Linked DNA regions of Homo sapiens. The protein of the gene in region 7 interacts with the protein of the main gene of each other region in a biochemical or structural test. Each region holds a gene or a part of one and is shown on either strand. Other genes may lie near its edges. The genes, in order: CREBBP, VDR, SUMO3, RAD1, ESR1, XPC and TDG.

The links.
Region 1: the proteins of TDG (region 7) and CREBBP form a complex in vitro, tested with the Homo sapiens proteins (2 studies listed by BioGRID, with this or other methods).
Region 2: the proteins of TDG (region 7) and VDR form a complex in vitro, tested with the Homo sapiens proteins (one study listed by BioGRID).
Region 3: the proteins of TDG (region 7) and SUMO3 form a complex in vitro, tested with the Homo sapiens proteins (one study listed by BioGRID).
Region 4: the proteins of TDG (region 7) and RAD1 form a complex in vitro, tested with the Homo sapiens proteins (one study listed by BioGRID).
Region 5: the proteins of TDG (region 7) and ESR1 form a complex in vitro, tested with the Homo sapiens proteins (one study listed by BioGRID).
Region 6: the proteins of TDG (region 7) and XPC form a complex in vitro, tested with the Homo sapiens proteins (one study listed by BioGRID).

The regions. Positions count from the first base shown.
Region 1 is NC_000016.10:3,724,554-3,727,633, reverse strand, and holds the end of CREBBP (CREB-binding protein), read left to right. Parts: 3' UTR 1-2,580; downstream 2,581-3,080. UniProt on the Homo sapiens protein: Acetylates histones, giving a specific tag for transcriptional activation. Mediates acetylation of histone H3 at 'Lys-18' and 'Lys-27' (H3K18ac and H3K27ac, respectively).
Region 2 is NC_000012.12:47,845,995-47,849,494, reverse strand, and holds part of VDR (vitamin D3 receptor), read left to right. Parts: intron 1-2,686; coding exon 2,687-2,838; intron 2,839-3,043; coding exon 3,044-3,160; intron 3,161-3,500.
Region 3 is NC_000021.9:44,805,117-44,808,062, reverse strand, and holds the end of SUMO3 (small ubiquitin-related modifier 3 isoform 1 precursor), read left to right. Parts: intron 1-1,022; coding exon 1,023-1,112; 3' UTR 1,113-2,446; downstream 2,447-2,946. UniProt on the Homo sapiens protein: Ubiquitin-like protein which can be covalently attached to target lysines either as a monomer or as a lysine-linked polymer. Does not seem to be involved in protein degradation and may function as an antagonist of ubiquitin in the degradation process.
Region 4 is NC_000005.10:34,909,005-34,912,504, reverse strand, and holds part of RAD1 (cell cycle checkpoint protein RAD1), read left to right. Parts: intron 1-692; coding exon 693-951; intron 952-3,148; coding exon 3,149-3,247; intron 3,248-3,500. UniProt on the Homo sapiens protein: Component of the 9-1-1 cell-cycle checkpoint response complex that plays a major role in DNA repair. The 9-1-1 complex is recruited to DNA lesion upon damage by the RAD17-replication factor C (RFC) clamp loader complex.
Region 5 is NC_000006.12:151,838,682-151,842,181, forward strand, and holds part of ESR1 (estrogen receptor), read left to right. Parts: intron 1-3,500.
Region 6 is NC_000003.12:14,168,602-14,172,101, reverse strand, and holds part of XPC (DNA repair protein complementing XP-C cells), read left to right. Parts: intron 1-1,551; coding exon 1,552-1,664; intron 1,665-3,500. UniProt on the Homo sapiens protein: Involved in global genome nucleotide excision repair (GG-NER) by acting as damage sensing and DNA-binding factor component of the XPC complex. Has only a low DNA repair activity by itself which is stimulated by RAD23B and RAD23A.
Region 7 is NC_000012.12:103,975,872-103,979,371, forward strand, and holds part of TDG (G/T mismatch-specific thymine DNA glycosylase), read left to right. Parts: intron 1-1,046; coding exon 1,047-1,189; intron 1,190-3,500. UniProt on the Homo sapiens protein: DNA glycosylase that plays a key role in active DNA demethylation: specifically recognizes and binds 5-formylcytosine (5fC) and 5-carboxylcytosine (5caC) in the context of CpG sites and mediates their excision through base-excision repair (BER) to install an unmethylated cytosine.

The DNA.
Region 1 (3,080 bases), on a different chromosome or scaffold from region 7:
AGATGGAACTGCGACTTCCGAGCCATGGAAGGGTGGATTGATGTTTAAAGAAACAATACAAAGAATATATTTTTTTGTTAAAAACCAGTTGATTTAAATATCTGGTCTCTCTCTTTGGTTTTTTTTTGGCGGGGGGGTGGGGGGGGTTCTTTTTTTTCCGTTTTGTTTTTGTTTGGGGGGAGGGGGGTTTTGTTTGGATTCTTTTTGTCGTCATTGCTGGTGACTCATGCCTTTTTTTAACGGGAAAAACAAGTTCATTATATTCATATTTTTTATTTGTATTTTCAAGACTTTAAACATTTATGTTTAAAAGTAAGAAGAAAAATAATATTCAGAACTGATTCCTGAAATAATGCAAGCTTATAATGTATCCCGATAACTTTGTGATGTTTCGGGAAGATTTTTTTCTATAGTGAACTCTGTGGGCGTCTCCCAGTATTACCCTGGATGATAGGAATTGACTCCGGCGTGCACACACGTACACACCCACACACATCTATCTATACATAATGGCTGAAGCCAAACTTGTCTTGCAGATGTAGAAATTGTTGCTTTGTTTCTCTGATAAAACTGGTTTTAGACAAAAAATAGGGATGATCACTCTTAGACCATGCTAATGTTACTAGAGAAGAAGCCTTCTTTTCTTTCTTCTATGTGAAACTTGAAATGAGGAAAAGCAATTCTAGTGTAAATCATGCAAGCGCTCTAATTCCTATAAATACGAAACTCGAGAAGATTCAATCACTGTATAGAATGGTAAAATACCAACTCATTTCTTATATCATATTGTTAAATAAACTGTGTGCAACAGACAAAAAGGGTGGTCCTTCTTGAATTCATGTACATGGTATTAACACTTAGTGTTCGGGGTTTTTTGTTATGAAAATGCTGTTTTCAACATTGTATTTGGACTATGCATGTGTTTTTTCCCCATTGTATATAAAGTACCGCTTAAAATTGATATAAATTACTGAGGTTTTTAACATGTATTCTGTTCTTTAAGATCCCTGTAAGAATGTTTAAGGTTTTTATTTATTTATATATATTTTTTGAGTCTGTTCTTTGTAAGACATGGTTCTGGTTGTTCGCTCATAGCGGAGAGGCTGGGGCTGCGGTTGTGGTTGTGGCGGCGTGGGTGGTGGCTGGGAACTGTGGCCCAGGCTTAGCGGCCGCCCGGAGGCTTTTCTTCCCGGAGACTGAGGTGGGCGACTGAGGTGGGCGGCTCAGCGTTGGCCCCACACATTCGAGGCTCACAGGTGATTGTCGCTCACACAGTTAGGGTCGTCAGTTGGTCTGAAACTGCATTTGGCCCACTCCTCCATCCTCCCTGTCCGTCGTAGCTGCCACCCCCAGAGGCGGCGCTTCTTCCCGTGTTCAGGCGGCTCCCCCCCCCCGTACACGACTCCCAGAATCTGAGGCAGAGAGTGCTCCAGGCTCGCGAGGTGCTTTCTGACTTCCCCCCAAATCCTGCCGCTGCCGCGCAGCATGTCCCGTGTGGCGTTTGAGGAAATGCTGAGGGACAGACACCTTGGAGCACCAGCTCCGGTCCCTGTTACAGTGAGAAAGGTCCCCCACTTCGGGGGATACTTGCACTTAGCCACATGGTCCTGCCTCCCTTGGAGTCCAGTTCCAGGCTCCCTTACTGAGTGGGTGAGACAAGTTCACAAAAACCGTAAAACTGAGAGGAGGACCATGGGCAGGGGAGCTGAAGTTCATCCCCTAAGTCTACCACCCCCAGCACCCAGAGAACCCACTTTATCCCTAGTCCCCCAACAAAGGCTGGTCTAGGTGGGGGTGATGGTAATTTTAGAAATCACGCCCCAAATAGCTTCCGTTTGGGCCCTTACATTCACAGATAGGTTTTAAATAGCTGAATACTTGGTTTGGGAATCTGAATTCGAGGAACCTTTCTAAGAAGTTGGAAAGGTCCGATCTAGTTTTAGCACAGAGCTTTGAACCTTGAGTTATAAAATGCAGAATAATTCAAGTAAAAATAAGACCACCATCTGGCACCCCTGACCAGCCCCCATTCACCCCATCCCAGGAGGGGAAGCACAGGCCGGGCCTCCGGTGGAGATTGCTGCCACTGCTCGGCCTGCTGGGTTCTTAACCTCCAGTGTCCTCTTCATCTTTTCCACCCGTAGGGAAACCTTGAGCCATGTGTTCAAACAAGAAGTGGGGCTAGAGCCCGAGAGCAGCAGCTCTAAGCCCACACTCAGAAAGTGGCGCCCTCCTGGTTGTGCAGCCTTTTAATGTGGGCAGTGGAGGGGCCTCTGTTTCAGGTTATCCTGGAATTCAAAACGTTATGTACCAACCTCATCCTCTTTGGAGTCTGCATCCTGTGCAACCGTCTTGGGCAATCCAGATGTCGAAGGATGTGACCGAGAGCATGGTCTGTGGATGCTAACCCTAAGTTTGTCGTAAGGAAATTTCTGTAAGAAACCTGGAAAGCCCCAACGCTGTGTCTCATGCTGTATACTTAAGAGGAGAAGAAAAAGTCCTATATTTGTGATCAAAAAGAGGAAACTTGAAATGTGATGGTGTTTATAATAAAAGATGGTAAAACTACTTGGATTCAAAGATGGTTCAGATTGGCTAATGACTTACAGTTAGCTCAACGGCTCGTCATTATAGGATTGCAGATGCGGGCCCGGTGCGGTGGCTCACGCCTGTAATCCCAGCACTTTGGGAGGCCAAGGCGGGTGGATCATGAAGTCGGGAGTTCGAGACCAGCCTGGCCAAGAAGGTGAAACCCCATCTCTATTAAAATACAAAAAAATTAGCCGGGTGTGGTGGCAGGCGCCTAGAATCCCAGCTACTCAGGAGGCTGAGGCAGAGAATCGCTTGAACCCAGGAGGCGGAGGTTGCAGTGAGCCGGGATCGTGCCACTGCACTACAGCCTGGGCAACAGTGAGATTTTGTCTCAAAAAAACGATTGTAGGTGGTGCTGGCCGGGCTTGGTGGCTCATGCCTGTAATCCCAGCACTTTGGGAGTCTGAGGCGGGCAGATCACATGGTCAGGAGTTTGAGACGAGCCTGGCCAATATGGTGAAACCCCATCTCTACTACAAAAAATACAA
Region 2 (3,500 bases), about 56 Mb from region 7:
TAAACCACAAATGAGTGTACTATCACGTGGATTGTAGCTCAATAGAAGAGGTCATTAATCTCGGCGCTAACAACCCCATGGCTGTGTCCAGAGGCCCTGAGCTCCCTGACCCTAGGAGAGTCCTGCAGAGGTTATGTAGGAGCCATCTCTAAGAGTTCCTAAGAGGGGCCCTCCAACTCTAGCACGTTGTGATTTTTTTTCAATACAGATCCTTTGCTGGCCATCCTGATCATGCAAGCCTTCTCATTTCCCACCATCTATCACCCATTGATACAACACTCTCATCAGTTAATATCAGCTTCCCATCTTTATATATAAACATGCAGCCATTGACGGGGTGACAGCCTATCTGCAGGATATCCAGGAGGAAGTAGACAGTCAGGAAGAGAAAGGGAGTAAAAGCCAGAAGCAAGCTGATTTGTGAGCCCTGCCTTTTCCTCGCCATTGTTCAGACAAGCCCATTCCTGACTCAGAATAGTGGAACTAGTCATTGGCCTCTCAAATCATCAACGCATCTCTATTGATCATCTTGTGCTGACGGCTCAATGGTCAGTGTGTGGGCAACAGTAAGGTGATTAAGAGGAGGTGCTGGCCCCCAAGTAACTTACAAACAAGAGTAGAAAACAAGTGGCCGGGTGCAGTGGCTCACGCCGTAATCCCAGCTCCTTGGGAGGCTGAGGCAGGCAGATTATCTGAGGTCAGGAGTTCGAGACCAGCCTGGCCAACATGGCGAAACCCCGTCTCTACTAAAAATACAAAAATTAGCTGAGTGTGGTGGCAGGTGCCTCTAATCCCAGCTACTCAGGAGGCTGAGGTAGGAGAATTGCTTGAACCTGGGAGGTGGAGGTTGCAGTGAGCCAAGATCTCACCACTGCACTCCAGCCTGGGCAACAGAGCAAGACTCTGTCTCAAAAAAAAAAAAAAAAAAAAAAAAAAAAAGGAGTAGAAAACAAGCATGTAAAGAGCAGAACTGGAGGAGACGGGCAAAATAAGAGCACCAGCAATGTTCAAGGCATCACAATGACATGGCCCTAACTGTGCTAAAGAGTCAGAAGGTGCGGGGCTCCAGTGGAAAACACAGTGGATTCAGGACCAGAAAAACAAAATGGAGAATTAGAAGGGTATTCCTGGCTGGAGCTGTAGTATGCTGAAAGGCGTGGTGATGGCTGGGTGCAGTGGCTCACACCTGTAACCCTGGTTCTTTGAGAGGCCAAGATGAGAGGATCACTTGAGGCCAGGAATTTGAGACCAGCCTGGGCCACATAGTGAGACACCATCCCTACAAAAAAAATTTAAAAATTAGCTAGGCGTACACCTGTAATCCCAGCACTTTGGGAAGCCTAGGCAGGCAGATCACAAGGTCAGGAGATCGAGACCATCCTGGCTAACACTGTGAAACCTCGTCTCTACTAAAAATACAAAAAAAAATTAGCTGGCCATGGTGGCGGGCACCTGTAGTCCCAGCTACTCGGGAGGCTGAGGCAGGAGAATGGCGTGAACCTGGGAGGCGAAGCTTGCAGTGAGCCGAGATCGCGCCACTGCACTCCAGCCTGGGCGACAAAGTGAGACTCCGTCTCAAAAAAAATTAGCTAGGCGTGATGGTGTGCACCTGTAGTCCCAGCTACTTAGGAGGCTGAGGCAGGAGGACTGCTTGAGCCCAGGAGTTTGAGGCTGCAGTAAGCCATAATCATTCTGTTGCACTCCAGCTTGTGTGACAGAACAGGACACTGTCTCTAAAAATACTAATAAAAGAAATTAGCTGAGCATGGTGGCGCATGCTTGTAGTCTTAGCTATTCGGAAGGCTGAGGTGGGAGACTCACTTGAGCCCAGGAGTTTGAGGCTGTAGCATGCTATGATCATAACACTGCACTCCAGCCTCAGCAACAGAGTGAGATCCTGTCACAAGAAAAAAAAAAGGCACAGTGAGAACACACAGCATCTGAATGTGGAGTGGCATGATGCTGCTAGAATGGAAGGTTGGTGGAGTTTACCATGGGAAAGGGAGTTGGAATGAGAGGTTGGAGCCAAGTTAGGGAGTGTGGGCCTGATCCTAGGGTGTTTGAGAGTCAGTGAAGATTTCTGAGTGCAAGAGGACATTGACCTGCAGCAGTGGTAAGAAAGATGAATGAGAGACTGGAGAGACACAAGTCTGGGATTCCTGTAAGAGGCTATTGGAAAAGACGCTGGAGCTCTGAACCAGGGCACTCCTGGTAGGAGTGGGAATAAGATCACGGGCTTGAGAGACATCCTAGAGACAGAGTTGGCTGAATTTACTACTGAGAAGGACTGGAGGACAGTAGGAGGGAGAGGAGGAGAAAACTTGGGTGTTGTTGAAGATACCATGGCCCTACCTTTTGCAGACCACCATATTCATGCCTCAATGCTGGGAACTTCCCTGGGCTCCGTTTCCTGTGCCCCATAGCTCTGGCTGCTTGGTCTCTGAGTTTTTCTTGTCTTAGTAACTGAGCTACTTCACTTCTGGCCTTGGCACATGATCACAGTGTTGAACTGTTCTCTCTCAAGGAACACTCTTGTCCCTTCCAGCCAGCCTGCAAGCTCCTCGATGAAAGACCCAGGGTGCATGTTGGTGCCCAGCAGGTGTATACCTGTCAAAGCACTAAACTGATTTGTGTGGCTTGAAGGCGTTTACTGGTAACCTGACCTCCTTCCCTCCCTCCCCTGCAGAGACCTCACCTCTGAGGACCAGATCGTACTGCTGAAGTCAAGTGCCATTGAGGTCATCATGTTGCGCTCCAATGAGTCCTTCACCATGGACGACATGTCCTGGACCTGTGGCAACCAAGACTACAAGTACCGCGTCAGTGACGTGACCAAAGGTATGCCTAGACTCCACCTCCTGGGGAGTCTTTTTCAGCTCCCAGATTCTGGCTCCACCCGTCCTGGGGTTTGGCTCCAATCAGATACATGGGAGGGAGTTAGGCACCAACAGGGAGAGAAGGGCGAGGGTCAGACCCATGGGGTTGGAGGTGGGTGGGCGGCTCCTCAGCTCTGCCCGCAGTACCTGGCCATTGTCTCTCACAGCCGGACACAGCCTGGAGCTGATTGAGCCCCTCATCAAGTTCCAGGTGGGACTGAAGAAGCTGAACTTGCATGAGGAGGAGCATGTCCTGCTCATGGCCATCTGCATCGTCTCCCCAGGTATGGGGCCAGGCAGGGAGGAGCTCAGGGACCTGGGGAGCGGGGAGTATGAAGGACAAAGACCTGCTGAGGGCCAGCTGGGCAACCTGAAGGGAGACGTAGCAAAAGGAGACACAGATAAGGAAATACCTACTTTGCTGGTTTGCAGAGCCCCTGTGGTGTGTGGACGCTGAGGTGCCCCTCACTGCCCTTAGCTCTGCCTTGCAGAGTGTGCAGGCGATTCGTAGGGGGGATTCTGAGGAACTAGATAAGCAGGGTTCCTGGGGCCACAGACAGGCCTGCGCATTCCCAATACTCAGGCTCTGCTCTTGCGTGAACTGGGCTCAACATTCCTGTTATT
Region 3 (2,946 bases), on a different chromosome or scaffold from region 7:
GAATGTTTTATGTGGAAATATTTTTGCAAAACATTTAAGATTTTAAATATTTACTATTCAGTATTTAATAAATATTGAAAACATCTTTGCAACAAGTATCCATTTGTACCTACTTGAGGAAACCTACACACCGCTGAGGCAGTGGCAGCTCTGGGAGTGTTCACCAGGGAGAAGCTGCTGAGAGCAGCTGAGCAGGGAGGGCCTCGTGGAGTCTCTGGGGCTTGACTGGGGGTCAGGGGGCTGGCTGTGGACAGGTGGACCGAGAGGCAGAGGGAGCCCTGCCTGGGGGCTCTCCCTCCAGCCCATAGTGTCGGTGGCAGGGTGAGGGTGGCCGACAGCCCTGATGGGACTCCTTTCCATCTGGGAGCATGACTACTTCCAGCCTTGCTGAGTCTGTGTAGGAACTGGCAGAAGCTTCCTCTTGCTTAGAGGATGGAAGAAGATCAGGGTGGGTGTTTTGCGCCCACTGTGTCAGGAGGAGAGAAGTGAGCGGGGGTGTTTCACTACCTTGCCTGGGCTTTAAATGGGGAGGGGCGGGGAGAAGCTGGCAATGGACCCTCACTTGACGGGCCCTTCTGTGAGCTGGGGGCTTTGGCTTTCATGGCATGGTCCCCCGCACTTGGTATAAAGCGCAAGGCTCCTGTGGGTCCTAGGACTCAGTGCTGCTAATCAGATGTTCTTAATTAGAATCTGATTTTGTGTAATTTTCAGTAAGAATTTTAGACATTTCAGTTTATCTTCTAGACTCAGTTTTTCTCTCAGTTAACATTTTAGCTTTGAATCTGCTTTTGTGAGTTTTGTTAGGGGAAGCTTGTTGAACCGTAAGGGCTGTAGTGAGCATACAGCAATGCCTCTTCCATGCGTGCTGAGCTGCAGTGAGGGGACGGACAAGAGCCAAGGTGTGACCAGGTGATGTCGCTAGTGTCAGGGAACACTCATGCCAGTGAGGATCTTCCCACTCTCTGATGAAAACTAACAGGCTCCCCTCTCTCTCGCTGTGCCTGTTGTGACAACCATGACAGCTGGAGATGGAGGACGAGGACACCATCGACGTGTTCCAGCAGCAGACGGGAGGTGTGCCGGAGAGCAGCCTGGCAGGGCACAGTTTCTAGAGGGCCCGTCCCCAGCCCGGGCCGTCCATCCTCGCATTGCTGTTGAATGGTGAGCACGTGACCATGCCGACCACAAAGGTGTCTGCGGAAACTCGAGGACATTCACCACGATGATTTTCCTCTCTTTGATGTACTTCAAGTGCAACTCAAAACTATATCTGCAGGGATGAATCTGTAACTTAAATTGGGCCAATCAGAATTGTTATCTTTGTTCAGGTAAAATGAGTTGCAAGATATTGTGGGTACTTTTGTGTGCTCATTTGTGTTTTCCCCCCCTCCTACAACATTTTTTTAACCCCAAAATTATAGCCTGAATGTTCGCTTTTAGTCTGGCCAGGGATCTGACTCCTGAGTTGGTTGCCTCTCCCCTGCTCACTCCAGTCACATAGAGAATTGGTGTTTCCCGCAGTGGGGATGCAGCTGTTGGACAGGTATTGGGGGCAAGGTTGGTAGGGAGGACAGACTGTCACTTGCTGTTACAGGCACAGGTGATTAAAATGCTAAATATTGCAAATTTAAGCTTTGTCAGTATATGGAAAAGTTGAAGGGAAAATACTGGAATGCTTCTTCAAAGGTTAAAAAATAACCGAGTCTTTTGGTAATTTGACCCCACGTGCTCTCTGGCCCTCAAGCATGTAACCTCGGGGTCTGAGGCCCAGGACCCACCCCCCTGCCACCCCTCCCACCCCACTCCCTGCTCAGTACCTGGCGTTGGTACACAGGCAAGGATTGGCACAACCAAAATTGGCCTTTTTCTCCCTCTTAATATTGAAGAAATTCCCACATTTCTCATTTGGTAATGGTGTTGTGGCCTCAGATTTCTTCTAGTATTTGCTTCTGATGAATGATTATGGTCTATACATAAAAAAGTAAGACTAAGTATTGCTGAATTTGCAGTTATGTTGTCGTGTATAAGAGCTACTTCCAAGTGTGGTTACAAATGAACCCATGGAATGATGACTTCATGTTCTTCTCGTGGGTTTGTGCCGTGCTGCTTTCCAAATAGGTATTGAATTTATGCATTAGTCTGGTGATTTCAGTTCTGTGAAATATTTTGGGATCTATACCAATTAAACATTTTCATAGTTCTGCCTATTGTCCTTCCCTGAGGCTCCATTGCTGCTTGGTGGCCATTCTCTGCCTTTTTACAGTCACCTGAACAATGACCCATCATCTCTTGCTTGCTTGAAATCTTGCTGAAATGTTCTCATTTCCTGTTTGCTGTATGGGCTCGGGTGGGATGTTTGTTGGCTCTGTTGTGTTTATTCACCAATTTGTACATTATTTGTTGTCCTTTACTACTGTAAACAGTAAATATAGTTTGGTATTCTGTCTCTTGGCTTCTACTAAACACTGCATTTGAAGGTTGGGGCATACTGGTACAATTCAGTGTTTGAATTGACCATTCCAGGCAGCCACTGCACTGAGAAACTTTGATTGAAAAGCTAGCCGCTGGAAGGTTAGTATTCGCCTGGCAGCTCATTTCCCCTCCCCTGGCACATCACCAATGCTAGTCCAGCCTTCTTCCTGCTGAGGGATGCATCCTCTCCTCAGAGACCTCCTGGCTGACAGCTGTCTGAGCTGGCATCACTGTGACATGTTACCCTCCCTCTCCTGGGTTTCGTATGTAAAGAAAGGGTGGATTTTAGAGGCAGGTGAGCTTGGGTGTTAGTCTAGGACATCTCTCGTTTTCTGGTGTTTGAATGTAAGTCAGCTTTCCTTCTGCCATGGACAACTTACCTATCTGCTTTGAAACTGAACTGACATTGATTTGGCTTTAAGAATTTCCCAGTGTGCAGTGGTGTAACAAAACCCAGGTTGAAAATGAGCTGTT
Region 4 (3,500 bases), on a different chromosome or scaffold from region 7:
TAATTATACATTTTCTAATACAGTGTTCTCCAGCTAGTTTTTCACAGAAGCATCTGTCATCTTCCATTCCTCACTGTGGCTCTCAATCCAGTAAGGAGAAGGAGTTTGAATATCCTGTCATATTCCTCCTTCCCTCTAGTGGTTTGCAGAGTTAAAATTTACACCACCATTAACAACCCTCTTTTTCTCTCAATTTGATTTTTAAATTCGAGGAAATATAAAGAATATCTCCCAGTTGGAAAAGTTGGAAGGATCCTTGTCATAGTGAGTACACTGACGTTACAGTACAGATGACAGCAATCCACTGTTACACACATTGAACCTTCAAGGAATAGCATACCCTGTTCTGCAGCAATTTAGTTACTTGCTGTGTTGATCCATATAGATTCTCTACCCTGAAATTGTACATATATAAAATCAACAAGCTATTTCTGAGGTGTGTATGACAACCTGAAAATGATTCCAAAGAATTATGTTACATTTTGTTCTGGTTCCCAATTTTCTTGTAGTTTTGGAATTCTCTACACACAACTGTCATCAGGGAAGATGTCATCCCTTTTTATGAGGAGATACATATATGTGAGAAATTGGGCGGAATAAATTATTCTTGAGAAATTTTATGTATCATTTCGAGGAGAAGCTGAACCCAGAACTATAAAGCTAAGGCCAAGTATGACTTCTTTCCATTGCAGGGACTTTAACTGCACTTCGAATGTGTTACCAAGGTTATGGTTACCCTTTGATGCTGTTCCTGGAAGAAGGAGGAGTGGTGACAGTCTGCAAAATCAATACACAGGAACCTGAGGAGACCCTGGACTTTGATTTCTGCAGCACCAATGTTATTAATAAAATTATTCTGCAGTCAGAGGGGCTCCGTGAAGCATTTTCTGAATTGGATATGACGAGTGAAGTCCTACAAATTACCATGTCTCCTGACAAGCCTTATTTCAGGTACTTGAGAGCAGTGCAGTTATAGTTAATGTGGTCTGTACTCCATCTTCCCACTTAGACATTTGCTTAGGATGCAAAATTTTTATTATCCACATTTTTAGAGTTTTCACAACTTTAGACAGCTTGTACTCTTACCTCATAATTTTATGGATCAAGAAACTTAAGACCCAGGAAGATTAACTCACTATTTCATATTTAGGTGGTGGTGGCATCTAGATGAGAAGCCCAGTCCTCTAATTTATAAACTGGTGGTGTTTTCATTGTACTACTCCTTACTTTCATAGATCAGGTTACATCATGAGGAAAATTGGGTTTAAGTGTTTGGAAAGGGTGTTTGTATTATGGTATCTTTTTCAAGTTAGTTCAGGATGCAGAAGAAGATGTTTTCTACACGTGGCTCATTCATTCACTAAGTATCTGTTGATCACCTACCGTGTGCTTATTCATCTTATTAAGCATTGTGGGAAGAACAGCTTAAAACCAAGGTGAAGCCAAGAAAATGTGAAACAGCAAACCATTAAGTACCAAGATAGCACACACAGATACCTGGGAAATGCTGTATAAGGATTTAGGGAGGATTGCTCAAGGCTGGCTTCCCAAGGGAGGGCAGTTTTCAGCAGGAGTACAATGTCAAAAAAGCTGTTCTTGATAGTTTAACACAAGTCTCTTTTCAGGATTAGACTCAGAGATTCTAGCAATTTAGAGAGAGGATCTAAATATTCTCTTTTTGAAATATTTCAGAATATTAAAGCCCCTAAATACATATGGAATAAAAGGAATAAGGTATTCTTTTTGTAACTACTTTAGAAGAATTACAGGCCCGGCTGTAAAAGTGCTGTGGCAGACACCTGTAATCCCAGCACTTTGGGAGGCCGAAGTGGGCAGATCACTTGAGGTCAGGAGTTCAAGACCAGCCTGGCCAATGTGGTGAAACCCTGTCTCTACTAAAAATAGAAAAATTAGTTGGGCGTGGTGGCACGTGCCTATAATCCCAGCTACTTGGGAGGCTGAGGTGGGAGAATCACTTGAACCCAGGAAGTGGAGGTTGCGGTGAGCTGAGATTGCGCCACTGCACTCCAGCCTGGGTGACAGAGTGAGAATCTGTCTCAAAAAAAAAAAAAGAAAAGAAAAAGAATCACAGGCCCTTGTCATGACTTTGGGGAGTTAAAAATTTGGCTCAAGGTCTGAGAAAGTTAACCAAAATGGAAATTGGAAACCTTACTTTAGCAGTGGAATGAAGTAAAAAATTCAGGTACTTAAAACAGTATTTCAGGGGATCTCCTCAGTGATCTCTCTCAGCCTGGGTAACGAGATGGACCATGGTATCTTTCATCTCCAGGATGGGAAACAATTTGGTGGTAGGGAGGTAGGAGTTGAAATTTTTTCCTGGATATGTTAAATTTTAAGTACCTGCGACACTAGGGAGTGGCTGGATATGTAGTTATGGTGCTCAGGAGATCCATTTAGACTGGAAATTTAGATTTGGGAACCATCATCATGGCTGGGTATGGATGAGACGGGTCAGAGAGAGAGATTATATTAGAAGAAAGAAAAGATGGACCCCAGGAAAACCACACCTGGAAGATGGGAGGCAGAAATGGAGCTTAGGGAAAACCAACCTGGATCTTATCGCCATGCTCATATAATACTTAGCAACGTGCTAATCCTGCAGCAAATGTTCCAGGAGTTCTTGCAAATTAAATCAGCATGTTAACACTTATAAATTGTCTACAAATAACTTCTGGTATTACCAAGTGAGGAAAACCATGCAATAGCCTTAAGAGCAGTCTAAGATACAGAAAAGCTGTAATTCCTAGGTGTAGGATTGGGAACAGACCTAAGGGTTGCAGTAGACTTAGATCAAGGTCTTCCATGAGTCCTCAATTCTCTCGCCTGTTATATATTTCTGACTTAAGGATGAGGAAAAGTCATTTTCAGAGTAGGATTAGGGTAATGAAATTAAAGTGTCCCCTACCCTTTTCCTTTTACAATTGATTTTCTTCAAACCCATTGATTAGTTGTCCTGAACTCCAGTGGGAGCTTTATTATGGTACTTGTTATCGTGTGTTATAAGCATTTGTGTACATGTCTGTTTCACCCACTAGTATGAATTTCTTAAGGAAGTGTTTTCTTTATTTGGATCCTAATGTGGTTTATTTTTGGATGAATGAATAAATGAGGTAATCATTTTCTATAGGTTATCTACTTTTGGAAATGCAGGAAGTTCCCACCTTGACTATCCCAAAGATTCTGATTTGATGGAAGCATTTCATTGTAATCAGACCCAAGTCAACAGGTCAGTTCTTAATATAGAGGTTGTCATTGGTGATAAAGAGGAGGTTAAATACCAGATTTCTGTTAAATAAAAACACTTTCAATCTGTTAATTAAAATGCACAGCATTTTATAAAAATGAATAGTAGAGTGCTGGACTTACTAGGGGATGTAGGGTTCTAACAGTGAATGAATTTTAAAACAGAAAATATTAGCAAATTGGATAAGTACTTGATTTTATTCTTAGATTTGCTACTTTTTATCCTTTACTTGGGA
Region 5 (3,500 bases), on a different chromosome or scaffold from region 7:
TATGGAGTAAGTCTGGGCCAAAATGATAATTGACAATGTTATTTACATGGATTTCTAAGTTGGCTAAAAAAGTTCCTTTATGGTTAGTGAATATAGCCCATGTAGTTTCCCCGTCTTCTTTAGATGCCTTCTATTTCTATGCCCAAAGTCTGCAGTTGATTTTCAGTAAGCTGGGGGTCATCTTAGAGATAAAATGTAGATGAATGGCATTTTGCTGACAGCATACATCTTTGCTATTTCTGAGGAAAATGGGCTCTCGCTATTAAATCTTTTGTCAATATTTATAAAAATAGTATTTACATATTCTATCTATATTGTGGAAACTATACATTTATTGATTCAGTCATTTGATATCAATGTTGTTGAGTCCCTATTCCAAGTGAGGCACTATGCTCTAAGCACATGGCATTTTAAAGATGAATAAGACACCAAGAACTTTGCAGATAGTAATGGAAATGAGAATTAATCAATTGAAGATTAATATAGTAAGTAGCAGAAGAGAAATAAAAAAATCTTCTAGAGAGTTCAGAACAGGGATGTTGATTCAAGTTTATGGGGATTAGGAGTGGCTGGTAAGGGAGGCATTCAGGCAAAAGACATAAAAATGCAGTATTCCCCTCGCACTCATTAGGATGGCTACTATATTAGAAAAAGAAGAGAGTAAGTGTTGGAGAGGATATAGAGCAAATAGAAACCTTGTGCCTTGTTCATGAGAATGTAAAATGGTGCAGCCACTGTGGAAAACACTGGTGATTCCTCAAAAAATCAAAATAGAATTATCATATGATCCAGTAATTCTACTTCTGGGTATATATCTAAAAGAATTAAAAATCTGGGTCTTGAAGAAATATTTGTATACTCATAGTTATAGCAACATTATTCATAATAGCCAAAAAGTAGAAGCAATCCAGATGTCTATAGATGGATGAATGGGTAAACAAAGTCTGTGTAGTATATACAGACAATGGCATATTAGTCACATCATGGACCTTCAGGACATTATCCTAAGTGAAATATGCTAGACACAAAAAGCAAAAGTAGGGTTTCACTTAATGAGGTATCTAGAATTGCCACATTCACAGAGAACAAAAGTAGATTGGTGGCTGCTAGGGGATAGGGGAAGGAGAAAATGGGGAATTATTGTTGAATGGGTATGGAGTTTCAGTTTTGTGAAATGAAAATGTTCTGAAGACTGGTTGCACGATGATGTGAGTATATCTAACATGATTGAATTGATGAACACTTAAGCGTGGTTACGATGGTAAATTTTGTGTTATATATATCTTACCACAATTTAAAAAATATAGCATTTTATTATGTAGGCGTGGGTGGGAAGATACTTGACACATTGGAACTTCTGGCCATGCGTATACTGTTCACTCACTTATTCCTTCATTCATTCAACAAACATGTATTGAATGCTTGCTATGTGCTGGGCACTGAGCTAGATATAACAATTAATAAGGCTTATAAGACATTGAATCTATCAATTTCATGCTTGCTAAATATCTACTCCCACCTCCAAAGGCACTAAGCTTCTACAGTTAGATATTCATAGCTGCTTCCTACTGACTTGAATCATGCATAGGATATTAGTAAACAAGCAATAAAAAGATTTGAGGTTGATGGGGGTGGGTTCAACAGCATGGTGGTGAAATGGAAAGAGATGGGTAACAGAATATGAACTAGAATTGAAAACTGTGAGCCAGTGCTCTCTAATGAACATTAAAAAATAAAGAATTCCTATTTGAGGCTGCCAACCTCAGAACTAAGTTATTTAGAATGGACGAAATTGGCAAAGTCAGACGTACTCAACCCAAGGAGCCAATATTTTGTGAATATTATGGCAAATGTAGTTTGAGAACCACTACCACAAAATTGTGAACCATAATAATGACTGAGAAGGCAGGGAGAGGTTATACAATTTGGGCTAAAAGGAAAGACAGGGCTTGTGAAGGGGAGCGCCAGTGAAAGTCAGTGTGGTTCGGGTATTTGGGTGGGGACTGGAAGCAGGAAGCTTGAGCTTCCTTTGCCAAGAGACCCTGCTGGAAGGGCTATCATCAATTGACTTTAGCTCATCTTAGGATTTTCATTTTTTAAAAAATGTTCACAGGAACCTTCACTCCATCTATACTTTCAATGTCTGCCTACCTTTCTTTCTTATACAACTTTGAACACTCTCTCCATTCATTTAAATATATTATGGAGTGCCAACTACATGCCAGGTACTGTGCTGGGCTCTTATTCCACCTTTATTTGATTGCACATGCCTGCCAAGTCCTGGGCCAATATAACATCTACTCCTATGTCTGGTCTGGCGAGAGATGCAAACTCATCTTCCTCTACTTTCCTTACCTCCTTCCTTCCAGTCTTCTTCAAGTTGTCTTCATTGAGGCAATTTCTTTTACCTGTGTTTTTAATCCCAACTCCTCTAGTTTCCTTCTTGGCTTTATTCTTTTATCTTCCTCTTTGTGCTTTCAAACATTCCCTTTCTCCTGGCCCATGCCCTTCAGTCTACACGAGGCCTTCTCAAGTCTCTTCATTCTAAAAAATTCATTTTCTTGGGTCTTATATTCTTCAGCTGCCACCCTATCTGTATCTTTTCCTATTCTCCTCCAAGTTCTCAAAGGAATGCCTTCCCTCATTTTCATCTCCTTACATTCCATCTGCTGAATTTTGGCTTGTGCCTGTACCTGTCTAAGGAAACTCCTTGCTAAGAGTCTGCTTTGTCAGGTCTGAATTCACTTAACCAGTCTTTGCTTTGTTGGACTTCTCTGCCCCATTTGCCATTCTTGATCATCCTCTCCATAAACCTTTCTACTTAAAGCATTTTACTTCCTTATTTTCTTGGTTTTCCTAGAATCTCCTTACTGTTCATTTTCAGCTTCCTTTCTGTGTTCCTCTTCTCTTCCTACATTTTTTTTTAGCTTTCTACTTTCTTAAAGCATTTTACTTCCTTATTTTCTTGGTTTTCCTAGAATTTTCTTACTGTTCATTTTCAGTTTCCTTTCTGTGTTCCTCTGATTGTCTCTCTTTCTACATTTTTTTTTTCTGTGTTCCTCTGATTTTCACGCAGTCTGGAGTTGTCATGATCAATCATAGCCTACTGCAGCCTCGACATCCTAGGCTCAAGTGATTCTCCCACCTCAGCCTTACAAGTAGCTAGGACTACAGTCACACATCACCATTCTCAGCTAATTTTTTTAAGAAGCATTTTTATAGAGATGGAGTCTTGCTATATTGTGCAGGCTGGGCTCAAACTACAGGGCTTAAACAATTCTCCTGCTTTGGCCTCCCAAAGTGCTGGGATTCCAGGCATGAACCACCATGCTCAGTCTCTACATGTTCCTAAAGAGGAGTTTTGAATATTGAAGAACAGTATTTTCAAATTACATTATTCAAGTTATAAAAACTGATATCCAGGGTTATGTGGCAATGACGTAAAAATTTGAATTGTTATTTTTTTGACACATGTTCTGTGTTGTCCATCAGTTCATCTG
Region 6 (3,500 bases), on a different chromosome or scaffold from region 7:
CAGGGAACACTTGATTTTCTGCCTCCTAAGAAAGTTGAGGGGTGGGGAGAAGAGGAAGAACAGAGGGATAGTTTTTCATTTGCTTCATAAACAAATCCTCACTGCCAGTATCAGCTTTTCCAGCAGCCTCTAGTCCTGGGATGGGAGAGTAGTCCAGTAGAGGGCACAGGAAGGGACACGGGACAGCATGATGATTTTCCGCCATGATCCATCTCTTCTCCTTTTCTCTAGACTTCCCTTCCCGTCCCGCCCCGTCCCGTCCCCATCCCGGTCCCGTCCTTAATGGAGTCTCGCTCTGTTGCCCAGGCTGGAGTCTAGTGATGCAATCTTGGCTCACTGCAACCTCCGCCTCCCAGGTTCAAGTGAGCCTCCTGAGTAGCTGGGACTGTAGGTGCCCACCACCACGCCCAGCTAATTTTTGTATTTTTAGTAGAAACAGGGTTCCACCATGTTGGTGTCGAACTCCTGACCTCAGGTGATCTGCCCTGCTCAGCCTCCCAAAGTGCTGGGCTTACAGGCGTGAGCCATTGCGCCTGGCCTTCCCTAGACTTTTCTGAAGAATACCTCTGAACTTACTGCTTTCCAGTTGCCTCCCCTCACTAGTTGAATTCTATCTCCAGAGACATATACATAGAGATAGGCCACGATACTGCCAAGGAAAGCTCTGGGTCCCCCTTTCCCTCTCCCCTGAGCATTGACTGTGGTCATTTCTGCTATGTTCATTCTAAGGGGAAATTTTTATTGCTGGTGTTTTGAGAGAAAGTGGTACTCTAAAAAAAGAGTGTATTATTAGAGCTCAAGATTGATGATTGGTTATTTTAAATGTTTATACCAAAATCCTAGATAATATTCTCACTTGGTACCAAGTGCCAAAGTTTACACAAGTTAAAAGTAACTGGATACTCTAGACACATTTTATATATGAATTTGCAGAAATATATTACGTATCAGCAAGTACTTAGCCTTGAGCCATTGTTTAGCCAGCTACTTATCTATGTTATTATCTACTTAGCTAGCTAGCTGTCTATGTCTCTTGTTATTTATGACTCACCTATGTGTAGTTACATCCCTGCTTGAAGTTAGAATGCTATGAATTTCAGTCTCCTTACATCATATTTCTTAAAGATGGAAAAGAAGTCTGAGTAGGCTTATAGTAGGATATATAAATGGAGATTTTATTCTGTTCTTTCTGGCCTCCAACTGCACATATATCACACAGATATCACAGTTCTGGAACTCATTATTATTTTGGTGTCTTCTAATTTTTCCTTGTCATGTCCAGGCACAGCTATGTTTTCTTTCACACGATCTAGATTGTAGGTTTTTTAACAGCACATCTGGTAGTAATTAGACAGATGATCAGAGCACATCTTGATGAGATTTGGAACACATGTTGATGGAGGAAGTGAGGCTCAGAGCTTACTAATCATCTTTAAATAGTTGCAACAGATTCTCAATAAATAGGAGGGGTTTTAAAAATTCCATTTAGCTTGAATGGAACACTAGGATGTCTGAGTCTTCTTCATCTTCCTTCCTGTGGTCTTTACACAGGGACTTTCCAAGTGACCTCAAGAAGGCACACCATCTGAAGAGAGGGGCTACCATGAATGAAGACAGCAATGAAGAAGAGGAAGAAAGTGAAAATGATTGGGAAGAGGTTGAAGGTGAAACATCTTTCTTTGTTTTCAGAACTGTTTGGTTCTGTTTGTTTTTTTGTTTGATTCTGTTTGGAGTCAGATCACTAATTGCAATCCTTTTGTTTTCTTTTGAGCTAATTAGACCACAGATAAGGTTGTACTAGGGACTTGCTTTGATATATATGGAAAAACTCATGGCCAAGTTACCAAAGAAGGCTGTTTACTCTCTTCCTCTGGTGACTGTCAATGGGGTAGATATAAATAGAGAGGCAGCACTATTTAGGAGAAGGAGCACAGGCTTTGAAAGTAGTTAGAATTGGGTTCAGTGCTCAACTTTGCCACTTAGGTGGCAGTGTGAGTGAGTAATTTAATCTTGAGCAAGTAACTTCACCTCTCTGAACTGAGTTTTCTCATTGGTAACACTCTGTAAACACTGAATGTTTAGTGTGAGCCATTCACAGTATAGGCTGTAGGATTATTGTGGGGAAAAGAAAGTTTGCAAATGTAATGGGCCTAATGTATCATACACTCACAGTAAATACCAGCTAATGTTATCATCCCTGATTCCTTCTGTCTGGCCTGACTTTTCCTCACCTTTTTATTTTGAAAGTGTTCAAATTTATAAAAAGAGTGAAAAATGTAATATATGTCCTTCACCTAGGTTCATTAACATTTTGCCACATTGAATGTATGTTTCTCTCTGTAAATATTCATTGTGGAACCATTTGAAAATAAGTTGTAGATATTCTGATACTCCACTGCTGAATACTTCAGCCTGCATTTCCTAATAATTAGACATTCTCCTGCATGACAAAATGACCTCATCACACCTACGAAAATGAAAAATAAGTCCCCAATTGTTATGAAAGCATCCTTTATGCCTGTTTCTTTTTCCATACCAAGATCCAACCAAGCCTTGTATTTGGTCTTTATGTCACTTTACTCTCTTAATATAGAGCAGTATTTCCCACCTACCGCCTTGTTTTGCTTTTCATAGCACTGCCTTTTTTGAAGGATCCTAGTCTTTTGTTTTGTAGACTGTCTCATGTTCTAGTTTTGTCTGATAAACAGTCACACATCTCATGGTGGTGTTAAACTTGTTTCAATATCCCCTGTATTTCTTGTAAACTAAGTCCAAAGACATGTAATTTTGATTAAACTTTTATTTTTTTTCCAAGAATCCTTCCTAGATGATGCTTTAAACCTCATCTTGCATTGATTAAGCCACCTCTAATGTCAGGTTGTTCCTCTTCTAGTCATGCTACCTTTAAGCTAGCTGTACTACCATGTCCTTTTGACATGGCCTCATTAGTCTTTGAGAACATTTTTGTTCAGCTTATACTTTTCTTGCTGTAGACTTGAAACCAGCCTTTTTTTCTTCAAGAAGCTGTGGTTCATTTTAATAGAGATTCATGTATAGAGACCAAGATCTGGCATTAGATGCATTCTTTGCCAGTAAGATGTCATGGCTTCTAGGCCCAGAGCCTCTTTTAAGGAACTTTTGCTAATGAAGTTTTCAATTAGATCCAGTTCAGCAAGTTCAGTCCTTCTCAGCTACTGTATACAAGCAACGTAGGGGGTGAAGAGATGAAAAGGATATATTTTTTGTCACTTACAAGTTTATAATTGAGAATGAAAGATGGACACCTGAGTCATGACTCTATACAAAGCAAATTGTGCTAATTGTTATTGTGGTAATACAGAATACAGAGAAAAGGAGATTATTCTCACTTGGGTTTTTTTTTTTTAAAGAGTTTTAAGTATATACATACATGCATGAGTGTCAGCTTTTTGATAGAGGGGTCTGTATCTGATTCAACCCAGTATCTCTATGCTTTAGGTTCTTTATCTAAAGACTGTCTG
Region 7 (3,500 bases):
GGCTGGTTATAAACTCCTGACCTCAGGTGATCTACCCTCCTCGGCCTCCCAAAGTGCTGGGTTTACAGGTGTGAGCCACTGTGCCCGGCCTTGTCACCTCATAAAGGTCCTACCTCTCAACACTTGCATTGGGGATTTAGTTTTCAACACGTGAACTTTGGGGGACACATTCAAACCATAGCAGTGGCAAAAAAAAAAAGCCCTAGCCCCAACAAAACAAAAATACCACCATCAATAAAAATCAAATATAGGCCTGGGTGCAGTGGCTCACATCTGTAATCCTAGCACTTGGGGAAACTGAGATGGGCAGATCTCTTGAGCTCAGAAGTTCAAGACCAGCCTGGCCAACATGGCAAAACCCTGTCTAGACAAAAATTACAAAAATTAGCCAGGCATTGGGGCTCGCTCCTGTAGTCCCAGCTACTTGGGAGGCTGAGGTGGGAGGATCACTTGAGATCTCCCACCTCAGAAGTAACAGTGAACCAAGATCACACTACTGCACTCCAACCTGGGTGACAGAGGGAGACCCTGTCTCCCCACACACACACACACACACACACACACAAACTAATGAAAAAATAAGTAAACAGGCAAATAAAAATAAACTAAAAGAGAATCTTAATTAGATTGGAGGGGATCTTCAGGTGATTAAATACTGAAGGAAAGTAGGGGCACAAATTGTATTTGGGGACATCTTAACCCTGTATGGGTTGATAGACCTTTCAAGTCTGTCTACTAGAAAACTCCCTCAAATCTTATTTCAGAGAAAGTATGGGCTGACTTGACAGGACTGATCAGTTTTATCAGTGACACATCTTATCATTTAAACAGTGCAAGAGTTAATGGTTGGTTATTAAGCACTCAGTAAAGGTTGGTGAACATGTACATACAGGACTAGATCTCTCCTCTGTAATCCACTCTAAATAAATACTTCAGTCTGGTTACAAAATACTTAATACTGTACTGAAGATTTTTGTACAGCTGATCATTTGGATTTACATTTGGGTAATTTTATCATTACATCTCATGCTTCATTATTCTTTCAGCTATTCCCTTCAGCAAGCTCAAGCTTTTTATACGTTTCCATTTCAACAACTGATGGCTGAAGCTCCTAATATGGCAGTTGTGAATGAACAGCAAATGCCAGAAGAAGTTCCAGCCCCAGCTCCTGCTCAGGAACCAGTGCAAGGTAGTTTCACCATGAGAGCTTAGAAAGTTCAACATCGGATCAGCCAGCTTATTTGAGAAAGGGTTTCATGGTGAATTTTAGCTCTATTTTAGTGTTAAAAAGTCAAATCCACTTTTTAAGTACTTAGTATGTGCTAAGCACTGATAGGTTCTGGGGAATAAAAGAACATGGGTCCTGCCCAAAAATATCTCATAATCTAGTAGAGAAAAGTAATAAGTAAATACACGTTACAGCTCAGCACAGTTTGTAGTGAAGAGGGGCATAGAATGAATGCCCTGAAAGCTTATGGGGTTGGCTTCTAACTCAGACTGATGGCTCAGAGGCTGCTTCCCAGAGCAGAGAAATAACACCAGGGCTCTGAAACTCCAACAATGTGGAGGCTTCATCCCGATAAAGATCAGAGTAGGGACATGTCCAGGCTGAGGGAGCTATACAGGCTGGGTACAGACACACACAAGCATGGCATGGCCAGAAACAGAGCAATTCTGTGTCCTTGGAGTCTGGGATATAACAAGGAAATGGTGAGAGGTGAGGCTGGATGGGGACAGTTGAAACTTGTTTTTTAATCCCAAAGAATTTATATTCTATCATGAAGGCAATAGGGAGCTGTTGAGAGAATGTAAGCAAGGGATGACTTACTTGACTGGTGCTTTACAAATTAGCCTGGAAATATTAGAGAAGATAGATTGGTTGGTAGACAACAAGTCGGAACTTGGAGGCAGGCCGGGCACAGTGGCTCATACCTGTAATCCCTGCACTTTGGAAGGCTGAGGCGGGTAGATCACCTGAGGTCAGGAGTTCATGACCAGCCTGGCGAACATGGCAAAACCCTGCCTCACACAAATTAGCCGGGCATGGTGGCGCACACCTGTGATTCCAGCTACTGGGGAGGCTGAGGCACGAGAATTGCTTGAATCCTGGAGGCGGAGGCTGAGAGGCTGCAGTGAGCCAAGATTGCACCACTGCACTCCAGCTGGGCAATAGTGCGAGACTCTGTCTCAAAAACAAAAACAAAAACAAAAACAAAAACAAAACTTGGAGTCAAGGAGTGGATTAGATGGATTAGAGACACTGTTTGAATAATCTAGGGGAGCACTGAGGAGGACCTGAAGGGGTGGAGAAAGAATTAGGAAACACTTAGGAGGTAGAATTACCTAGCCATGGCTAATGGGTTTCATGTGTTTGGGGGGAGCATGGCAGGATAGTGGGGGAGAAAGGGGAGTCCAGAAGTAACTACCAGGTTTCTGGCATTGGCATTTGGTTGGAGGAGGTGCCACTCACCAAGACAGAGAATTAGAAGAAAATAATAGGTTCCAGGGGTGGGAGAGTGGTTGGAGAGAAGTTAATGATTTTCTCCAGTGTAACAGTATTTTATGAGAAATGTGCTCAGGGTTTTGGTTTATGATTGCAGGAACACATCTAATAACTCTGCCTCCGCATTAGGACTTCCCCAGCTACATGCCAGTGATGGTGGATCTGTTGGCATAGGGAGTGGCTAAGACAATGTGAGGCAGAAGAGAGGAGGGACTGACTGCCTGTATCCTGCGAGGCTTGATTGGGGAAACGCCAAAGAGGAGTAGAATAGGGTAGAAGCCTGAGTAGTTAGGAGAAATGTTAAATAATTAAGGGTAAGAAAATCAGGGCTTCCTGTTGGGTAACTATAGGTCAGTGGTTTTCAATCAAGGGTGATTTTGCCCTCCCAAGGGACATTTGACATTGTCTGAAGACACTTTTGATGATCAAGACTGGCAGGTTACTACTGGCATCTAGTGGGTAGAGATCAGGGGTGCTATTAAACATTCTGTAATGTGCAGTACAGCCACCCACAACAAAAAATTATGCAACCTAAAATGTCAATAGTGTGGAGGCTGAGAAACTGCTTTACGTCCTGAGGTTGGATCCCTCCTCTTGCCTTTTGAAAAATACTGCCAGCCCAGAGATGTCATCCTGGGCACCCCTAAATTCCCCTCTTCAACTATGTATGGAACAGAATATACACCTCATCTCTAAAACAAGCCCACAAGCCATTGTGTTTTTCTTTTTTCTTTCTTTTTTTTTTTTGGACAGAGTCTTGCTCTGTTGCCCAGGCTGGAATGCAGAGGCATGATCTCAGCTCACTGCAACCTCCACCTCTTGGGTTCAAGCAATTCTCCTGCCTCAGCTTCCCGAGTAGTTGGAATTACAGGTGCACGACACCATGCCTGGCTAATTTTTGTATTTTTAGTAAAGACGGGGGTTTCACCATGTTGGCCAGGCTGGTCTTGAACTCCTGACGTCAGGTGATCTGCCTGCCTTGGCCTCCCAAAGTGCT